3 separate regions of the Homo sapiens genome follow, and all the other regions are reported to be linked to region 2. Evidence: microRNA targets listed by miRTarBase, many of them from high-throughput screens and not tested one by one. Region 2 holds a microRNA gene; each other region holds the end of a gene's coding sequence.
The links. The annotated mature microRNA hsa-miR-4773 reads CAGAACAGGAGCAUAGAAAGGC and lies in region 2 at 1,598-1,619, shown strand. An mRNA with a match to its seed (bases 2 to 7 or 8) in the 3' UTR can be bound and repressed. Matches are read on the target gene's strand: a 7mer-m8 pairs with bases 2 to 8, a 7mer-A1 pairs with bases 2 to 7 and ends in A, and an 8mer does both.

Region 1 (3,263 bases), not on the chromosome of region 2:
AAATTTGTAATTTGTTGACTGAAGACATTTACGTTTGTTATCTGCTTAAATTGCAAGAAAAGGTGGTTCATTTGTTTTTGTTTTTTGTGTGGTTTTTTTTTGATGTTTACATTACCAGTGACAACAGGTTTTTTTGGCCAGTATTCATATAAGAAGCTTTTTATTCTGTTGCTTTTATATTTTCTTCTTTATTTAAATACATTAATTTTGCTTGTTTGGTTGGTGTAGACTGCAAAAATGGAGTCTGGACTGTACCAGTTATTCATAGATGGATTGTATCCCATGTTTCAGCTGCGTATCAATAATGTGTATTTCACCTGTAAGGGAGCATATTTTTAAATTTTGTTTATGCTACAAAGATAAATCATCAATGCATTTCATATTTTTGAAAGTCATTTTTATTTATTAATTTTGGGGACTTACTGTGCTTCTTTAATTCTTCACATATTTTATAGCCCATCCTCATGGGTTCTGTAGCCGTTGGATCTGGACTGTCCTGGCATCGAACTCTCCCTCTGTGTGTAATTGGAGGAGACCACAAGCTGTTGTTTTGGGTGACTGAAGTATAAAGTGTTTTCTGTACCTTAGATTCACAAACTTTGTATTTTTAGTACATATTTTGAAGAATTTCTATAGTACATATTTTGAAGAATTTTTATATCAAATATACCGTATACTTTAGAAAATGTCTCAGTTGCTTTTATTAAATAAAATGTTGATGGTTTGAAAAATTATTTTTCTACTCTGTTCTCTGTGTGTGTATATATATATATTTTTAATCTTACAAAATCATATTGACTCAGCAGCTCACCTCCAGAGAAGAGATGACTAAGGAAAAATAATGCTTTTGAGTTTATCAAAAAAGGAGTATTTGAAGTGTATCCTGTTTTCTATACTTTGAGTATATGCTGTTTTTCTAATTCTCAGGGACACATTTATCAAAAGAGAAAAAAAGGCCAGGTACAATGGCTCACACTTGTAATCCCAACACTTTGGGAGGCTGAAGGGAGTGGATCACTTGAGGTGAGGAGTTCAAGACCAACCTGGCCAACATGGTGAAACCCTATCTCTACTAAAAAAATAAAAATAAAAAAAATTAGCCAAGCATGGTTTGGAAGACTGAGGCAGGAGAATCACTTGAACCTGGAAGGCAGAGGTTACAGTGAGCCAAGATCGTGCCACTTCACTGCAGCCTGGGCGACAGAGCGAGACTATCTCAAAAGAAAAAAAATCCAAGGAGAAAAAAATATCTTAGGGTATTCTGGAAGTGGTTGTTGAGTATATATATGTGTATGTGTACTCAATTTAATGTAAAAAATTGTTTTCAGTTTCTTAAATATGTGATTGATTATATTGCTCAACCCTGTTTATTATACGCAGATTCCTTTGGACGAGGTGTTCTAACAGTCTTAGAACATCTGATATATGGGATCAAAAGTTACCTTGAAAAATGACTTCTAGTGTATACCTTTAACAGCCTCCTTTTTGTGAATTTTCACTGTTCTTACCAAGAAACTTAAGTGTTTTTGAGATGGGACCTGTTGGCAATGGAACTGTGTTCACCCTCTCAAAGATCATTAAAATCAACGTTATCTAAGACAGCTGTATCACATTTTTGGGATACATCATGGTACAGTCAGAAGCATATAAAATTATGGTTCTGCTTGTCAGTCACATACAGAATCCAATACATTTTGACAAACTGCCCATTCCTGCAAGTTAATGCCCTTTTTGAAGCTTCATTTCCTCTTGTAAAGTACAGATAGGAATCATTATTTTGTGGAGTTGCTGTAAAGATTAAATAAAGGTGAATGAAAATACCTAGTATGTGTCTGTCACGTGGTTCAGAGATGTATAGAAATTATTTATTTCAGAGATGAGTAGGTCTTATTTTTGAGGTTTTAGAGATTTATGTTTAATGCCAGTAAATATTTTTTACTCCAGTTTTCTATTCTTAAGGTGTCTTAAAATAATTGTAGAATCAAGAACATTATATTTTTAAGAGATAGGAGAATGTTCCAGGTAATTAAAAGAAAGAATTCAGTGAAATTTTATAACCATGTAGATGTTTGGGTTCAACTTTTACATGCTTTAAAGTACAGATGAAAAATTTTATAGCAATTTCCTAGTCAATTTTTTAATACAGTTAAATATTATAACCAAATGATATAAATTGTTTTGTTTACCCCTTCATAAGAAGATTTTGAACTAACAAAGGAAAAAGCAAAGAGCAAGGAATTTTGACATGGTTCTCTTTAAGAATCTCTGTGATGGGGCAAGGATTCCTAAAAGCATCAGGATAGCCAAAGGGCTATCAATAGTGACTCTTACAAGAATTTGTCATTTCAGGATATGTCCAAGAAATATAAAAATCATCTCTAAGGCTAGTGTGTTCAAAAATTGTTGTCATATACTTAGAAAAATTGATGCATGAAGTGGGTGGGTTTTATTTAGGGATGGAAATTAAGGAGATGATTATGTTGGGCTTGGGTATATAAGAAATGGATTCTCTGGAATAAGGGCTTAACCAAAATATAAAAGTTGTCTGATGAAATTACCCAGTAGGGCTGGGCGCAGTGGCTCATGCCTGTAATCCCAACACTTCGGGAGGCCGAGGTGGGCGGATCACTTGAGGTCAGGAGTTCAAAACCAGCCTGGCCAACATGTTGAAAACCCACCTCTACTAAAAATACAAAAACAAAATTAGCAGGACGTGATGGCACGTGCCTATGATCCCAGCTACTTGGGAGGCTGAGCCATGAGAATCGCTTGAACCCTGGAGGCAGAGGTGGTGGTGAGCCAAGATTACACCACTGCACTTTAGCCTGGGTGACAGAGCAAGACTCCATCTCAAAAAAAAAAAAAAAATACCCAATAGAACTTCTATCTTTTAGTAGGGGAAGCTGTTTTGGGAAAAGATAACTCATGATGATTGTATACTGTTATGCCAAAAAGAGGCAGGAAGTGTTATCCTCAGAAGAAAATAGTGATTCCATTTGTGGATTAATATAGTGACTGTAAGATAAGACATTCTCAAGAAATGAGAGGGTTGCCTTTACCTGTTAGTTTCAGGAGTGAAATGTACTTTATCCTATGTAAGCATTGAGAACTCTAACCTCTTTTTCTTTTTTTAGATCTTAAAAGTAGGCTACAGGACCATGTTCCAACTTATACTTTGTTGTTAAACTTTATTGTGTTTAATTATTTTAAAATCGTATAATGTTGTTTTTTTCTTAGTAAACTTTGTTCTTCGAAATATGTTT
Region 2 (3,263 bases):
TGTTAAAAATGACATTTCTTAGCAATCTATTACTTTTTATGAAATGTTAAATGTCTTAGTATACAGCATCTATGGTATATTATGTATGCTTTTAGCTAAAGAATAAATGTATTTTTTCATCAATAGTTACTAAATTCTCTAAAATGAACATGGACTCTTTGTGAATTTATTTTTATTTTTATATTTTGAGACAAGATCTCGCTCTGTCACCTAGGCTGGAGTGCGGTGACCCAATCATAGCTTATTGCAGCCTTGAACTCCTTGGCTCAAGCAATCCTCCCACTTCAGCCTCCTAAGTAGTTGGGATGACAGGCATGTGCCACCCAGCCCTGGTAATTTTTATTTTTTTTGTGTGGAAATGGATCTTGCAATGTTGCCCAGGCTGGTATTGAACTCCTGACCTCAAGTGAGCCTCCTGCCTCTGCCTCTGAAAGTGCTGAGATTATAAACATGAGCCACTGTGCCCAGCCATGAATTTTAAAAAAGTAAATATAGTAAGAAAAAAATGGCTAGGTGTAGTGATGCTCACCCTTAGTCCCAGCTAATTGGGAGGCTGAGGCAGAAGAATCTCATGAGCCTAGGAGTTTGAGGCCAACCTGGGCAACATAGTGAGACCTCCAGCTCTAAAAAATAAAAATAAAAATAAATTTTAAAATTAAAAGAATTGTAATGTAATTAATTGTACTTTTAAAAATATTTTTATTTTATCTTTTAAGGCATAACATAACAAGTCTTTTGTGCACACGCCTATTTTTTGTTGTTGTTGTTTTTTGAAATGGAGTCTCACTCTGTTGCCCAGGCTGGAGTGCAGTGGCACAATCTCGGCTCACTGTAGCCTCTGCAATTGTTCAAGAAATTCTTATGCCTCAGCCTTCTGAGTAGCTGGGATTACAGGCATGAGCCACCACGTCTGGCTAATTTTTGTATTTTTAGTAGAGATAGGGTCTTGCCATGTGGGCCAGGTTGGACTTGAACTCCTGACCTCTGGTGATCGACCCACCTCAGCTTCCCAAAGTGTTGGGATTATAGGTGTGAGCCATGGCACCTGGCCTATGTCTATGTATTTTGACAAATATATACACATTTATATTACAAACAGCCCTATCAAGATGGTAGGGACTTTGCCCTGTGGTGTCACCATATGTCTTCAGGGCCACAAGCACTTAGAATAATGGATCCCATAAATTCTGCTTGGAAAATCATTATACAATTTCATGATCGCAAGAGACTTTAAAGTCACTCTAATCCACTTAAAAGGAATAATTTATAATTATTCTGTATACTGCCTTTACTGATTTTAAACTAATACCCTAATCCTAATATTTTAAGATTTGATGGAGATATTCATGTTTGTTTTTCCAAGTCATTCATCATTTAACAGATTTCAATATGTTATAAATTGTCATAAGAAAAACAAACACATATAAAACAAAACAAAAACGCTGTCTCAGAATCAGTGGTTTGCAATATGACCTAGAGGGAAAGCTAGGAAGAAGCCCTGGTTAATTTTAATTCCATATCAGGTAAGTGTCTAATGTCTAGAAAAAAGATGCTCCCCAGCCTTTCTATGCTCCTGTTCTGCTTTGATGAAATAAAGCAGAACAGGAGCATAGAAAGGCTGGGGAGCAACAAATGAAGGTCAAGGATCTAGTTCAAGCTTGGTGACTACTCTACACTTCATTTTCTTCATTGGTAAAATAAATGTAGCCATACCTTTCCCATTATCTATCACACAGGGTTATTCTAAGGATAAAATACAGAAAATAATTTAAGGATGTTATGCAACCCATAAGCTATTCTTACTGTATAATAAAATATACAACACATAGTTTGTATGTCTGCATAAGGATGTACATTGCCAGCTTTAGGAGCGAGTTGTTCCATCCCATAGCATCCAATCTTTGTTGTATATATTAATAGATTAGAAAAAATTCAAATATTGAACTAATTTGGCTGCCTATTTGGCTATATTTATTTAGATCTATATTTTATGTTATATCTAGTTACTGCCTCATCTATTATTTAGAATATCAGCTCTAACTTGGTGACATTGATTAATCAATAATGATTGCTTTATTTTTGTGAAGCCATTATTTTTTTTTTTTATTCCAGTGATGTTTCAGTGAGCTGTTCCCCCAGTGCTAGTTCAGGCGGTCAAGTCTCCTTCAAGTTAACCACATCCTAAATAGTCAGCATACCACCAAATCCAAAAGCGAGCTAAATGCACTGAGAATTGGGTAAAAACAAATCTCCCAGGATTCTGTATTCCCAGAGTGTATTCAGCCTCTCTGAGAAAAGAAAGCAACTTATAATAATTTATAATTTAGGATTATATTCTTATGAAAGGGCAATGAAATACTGAAAGGACCATTTCATTGGCACTTCTTCAATGACTCTAGAGTTTAATCTATGGAAATTATCCAGTGGAAGCTCAGAGATCCTAAAGTTTATCAAGTGAAAGAAGAATCAGAGAATACATTTGAAAAGAAGAGTTACTCTTAAGAGTAAAAAAGAGTGGTCTGCATAAATATATTTAAGAAAATGTAAGAGAGGGAGGGAGGAAAGGAAGATACATATTGTTGACATAACTAAATATAGGACTAAATTAGTACTGTATAGTATAGGACTAAATAAGCTTAAAGCATGTCAAAGTGACTTGAAAGTTAAAGTTACATAAATGCACTGTTAAGTATTTATTCCTATTTTGTCTCAGTTAAGACTAGTTGTAGCTGTAGGCAAAAATCTTTCTACTTGGACTACACATAATTTTGAGATATAGGTTAGTTACAGACATGAGAAACTATTCTCCAAATGTTAATATAATTAAATAATAGATTTTATAATAATACACTAAAACCTCACTATGTAACTCTCCTACTGTGTTATGGAATTTCTTATAGGGTAAATCCAAATGGGACACATCTGAGGATGTTTATGATCCTAAATGCCAGGAAGACTTTGTAACATACTGTAATATTTTGTAACATTGTCCTGGTGGAAATATACCCAAAAAGAACAGCCTACTTTTTCTCCAAGAACGTGACCTAAGAATAATTCTTTATAGTAATTATGAGTTAATTTTCTCATTATTTCCTAGTTGCAAGCAAACATGGAAAAAATATGAATAAAAATATATGGTATAATGATAGCTAGTATATACAGTATATAATTGTTAAACCATAGAATTAGAGTTGCTTAGTTTGGAAGTACTAGCATATATACACAAAAAGAAATTAAGGAAAGAATTTATTTGTTTACTTTGT
Region 3 (3,263 bases), not on the chromosome of region 2:
CCAAGTTGCTCTCCAAGTATGTCCCTGTGGCCAATCGCTATGAGGGCACTGAGGATGATTATGGTGATGACCCTTCGACCAACTCGTTTGAGAAAGAGAAGCAGGACTATGTCTATTGCCTGGAGTCATCCCTGCAGACCTACAACCCAGACTACGTCCTGATGGTAGAAGACGATGCTGTACCAGAAGAGCAGATCTTCCCAGTCTTGGAGCACCTTCTGCGGGCTCGCTTCTCTGAGCCACATCTCAGAGATGCCCTTTATCTCAAGCTGTATCACCCCGAGAGGCTCCAGCACTACATCAATCCAGAGCCCATGCGGATCCTGGAATGGGTTGGTGTAGGCATGTTGCTGGGGCCCTTACTAACCTGGATATACATGAGGTTTGCCAGCCGCCCAGGGTTTAGCTGGCCTGTAATGCTCTTCTTCTCCCTGTATAGCATGGGTCTGGTGGAGCTGGTGGGTCGGCACTATTTCCTGGAACTGCGGCGGCTGAGTCCTTCCCTGTACAGTGTGGTTCCTGCCTCTCAGTGTTGCACCCCAGCCATGCTCTTCCCGGCACCTGCGGCCCGCCGGACCCTCACCTACCTGTCCCAAGTGTACTGCCACAAGGGCTTTGGCAAGGACATGGCACTGTACTCGCTGTTGAGGGCCAAGGGAGAGAGGGCCTATGTAGTGGAGCCGAACCTCGTGAAACACATCGGGCTCTTCTCCAGTCTCCGGTACAACTTTCATCCCAGTCTCCTCTAGGGTGCCAAGAGATGCCTTTCTGAAGTTGGCCACTTCTTGAAGATTCAAATATTTATCTCTTTATTTAGACATGGTTGCCTGCAGGTATTTCACTGTTTACTGTTGTTAGAGATATAGGCACTGGGGCAGCTGAGGAACCTCAATATGTTAAGAGCCTTGGCTTTGGTAGCCTCCTGGCAGGAGCAGCAGTTTGCCACAGGTCCGGACCTCTCCCTCCACACAGCCACACTGCCTCATGCAGTCTGACCCACCCAGTGAGGGTGCATTTGAACACTGATTATATTCTCCATTTGTTTTTAAGCTCTGCTTTGTGTTAGAGCTTGTGACTGCCAAAAATTTTGTGCACAGTGATATGACTGTTTTAGGATCTTAAGGGTAGAATTTTGTGAAAGGTGAGATCCTTTGGAATTGAGTTCTTTCTCATTGGGTATGAAAATGGATGTATGTTTAGAATATATGCCCAACGAGGCAGGACCATGTGGATAGATTCCATTTGTTTCCTTGACCTGATGTAATAAAAACTGATAAAAGCCGTGCAGTGCCCGGCATCTTGGAGGCAGGTGATCTGGCTTTTCTGTTACCTGGGATTTTCTTTTCCTATATATCTGTAGTGCACTGATAATTGATATTGTTAGTGAGAACTTTAAGGCACGACAAGATCTGGAAGAGCTTGTGAACCATCAAAGTCAGATTGCTTATGTTGAGTAGTGATTTAACATTGAACATTTCTGTACTACTCTGACTCTTTGAAAATTGGACATTTCAGAATGATACAATATAGGGGAGCTCTTTACAAGTAGCATATCATTTTTCCTGACTTTCCTGGCTGACTGCTTACCTTCATTTCTTTTTCTTCTAGGTAGCATGATGTTATAGAAAAAAAAAAAAAAAAATCATGGACTGAAGTCAGAAGACCTGACCTTTTATTTCAGATCTCTGCCATGGCCTAACGACGTGACCACCTTGGGCAGGTCATATAATCACTCTGGGTCTCAATTTCTTCACCTGTAAAATGAGGACAGTAATACTTACATGTTAAAGTTGCCTTGAGGATTAAATGGCAGAATATATGTAAAACACCTAGCAAGTGCTTAGTCCATAGAAGACGCTTGGCAAACTTTTCTCTCCTATAATAAACATATACAACTCAAGCTTATTTCGGAAAAAGATATTGGTGATGTTGTTTAAAGTATGAGATAGGGCATGGAGCTGCCACCTATGTACCAGCTATTCCAGATGACCAAGCCCTGCTAGAATAAAGACTGACTTTTCATTGTGACCTCTGAAGGATGTGCAGCTCAGCTTTCACCTATCCCCACGTTCACCCAAGCCAAAAAGAAGAATTGTTCATTCAAACTGGAAATGATCTCCAGCTTGGAAATGAGACTCCTCATGAGCTTATTCTAAGATCAGAGTCTGAAAATTATTTTCTCAAAAGTTACAAATAAATGTCTTTTAACAGTACTGTCAGACTAGTGACCAACAAGTTACTTTATGAGGATGGATGATGATATTAGAGTTCAAGCAATTGTCCAGTTTGTTTCGATGCCACAGTTTGCTTTTAAATTCCCATAGTGAGCTTCCATCTTGAGACCCACTCAACACAGAAGGATTACATAAAGGTTGATCACCCACGCTCTACAGATGAACAAATTGAGACCCAGAGATGCTAAACTGCTCTGCAGGTCACAAACCTGAACAGCAGCATAGCCAAAATGGGAACGGAGCTCTTCTGACTTCAAGCCCCTGCACTTTTTTCTTAACCACATTAATTTTATGAATATCTATGTGGTCAAAGTCTCTTTTGTAAAATCTGAGTATAAGCTGAACTAGATCATGTCTCTGTAAGCTAAGATGGCAGAAACACATTGTCATGTTAGTTTGGAGGAGCAAACAGATATAAGTATGTGTTGTAATGTTATAGTGAGCTGTTATGTATCCCCCAGCAATGTCCAAAGTGATCAGAGCTACTAGATGACTTATTACAATGTTCAGATCCCACTCCTTCATTCCTCCTCTCTCAGTGACCTGTCTACCCCCAAGCTTTAGAACTGAGCTCTCTCCAACTTAGAACTCATTAGAGTTTGTTGCATTAGTGATTGGATCTCCTCATGAAAGTTTTTTGACCAATGACAGTAGAGCCCCTTTAAGCTAGCCAGGCCCAAGATAGGGAAGCACTGCTGGTTTACATTTCTGCTCTTTCTAATTCAGTTGTCTATTGCATGCAGACATCCCCTGCCCGACTTCTCCATTATGGAAGGCTAAGGCCATCCTTCCTTGTCCAGTTTCTCTACCTACACACTAACATGCCTTTTCCCCATGGAGTGAACTCTGCCAGTTGTCTTTGGACATTTTCTGCAGATGCAGGCTCAGTTCTGCTCTTTTGTTCCCACCCACTTCTAGATCTTCCTCCATTTAATCCCTTATTCTTATAAGGAGTCTAATTTTTGTGTATTGTCCTTGATTAGGGCAGCTGACAGCTTTACACCAAAGCTGAAGTCTCTCACTTAATCC

Region 1: the mRNA of NUP37 is a reported target of hsa-miR-4773. Seed matches in the 3' UTR shown: 7mer-m8 at 745-751, 7mer-A1 at 1,397-1,403 and 7mer-m8 at 1,499-1,505.
Region 3: miRTarBase lists PGAP4 as a target of hsa-miR-4773. The part of its 3' UTR that is shown has no 7-base or 8-base seed match.

Annotation. Positions count from the first base shown.
Region 1 is chr12:102,071,660-102,074,922 of GRCh38, reverse strand. NUP37 (nucleoporin 37) reads left to right here. Exons shown (of 10, transcript NM_024057.4): 10 at 456-1,820. The coding sequence ends at 569. Among named protein-coding and RNA genes, the nearest start is that of WASHC3, 11 kb to the right of the region's middle.
Region 2 is chr2:151,366,699-151,369,961 of GRCh38, reverse strand. MIR4773-2 (microRNA 4773-2) reads left to right here and starts at 1,551; the gene lies at 1,551-1,628. All of the region lies in intron 3 of TNFAIP6 (TNF alpha induced protein 6), which reads right to left. It overlaps MIR4773-1 (microRNA 4773-1), which reads right to left and starts at 1,628; the gene lies at 1,551-1,628. The region is part of intron 2 of LOC101929319 (a long non-coding RNA gene); the gene reads left to right.
Region 3 is chr9:101,473,367-101,476,629 of GRCh38, reverse strand. PGAP4 (post-GPI attachment to proteins GalNAc transferase 4) reads left to right here. Exons shown (of 2, transcript NM_032342.3): 2 at 1-3,263. The coding sequence ends at 749. All of the region lies in intron 1 of TMEM246-AS1 (TMEM246 antisense RNA 1), which reads right to left. Among named protein-coding and RNA genes, the nearest start is that of TMEM246-AS1, 6.6 kb to the right of the region's middle.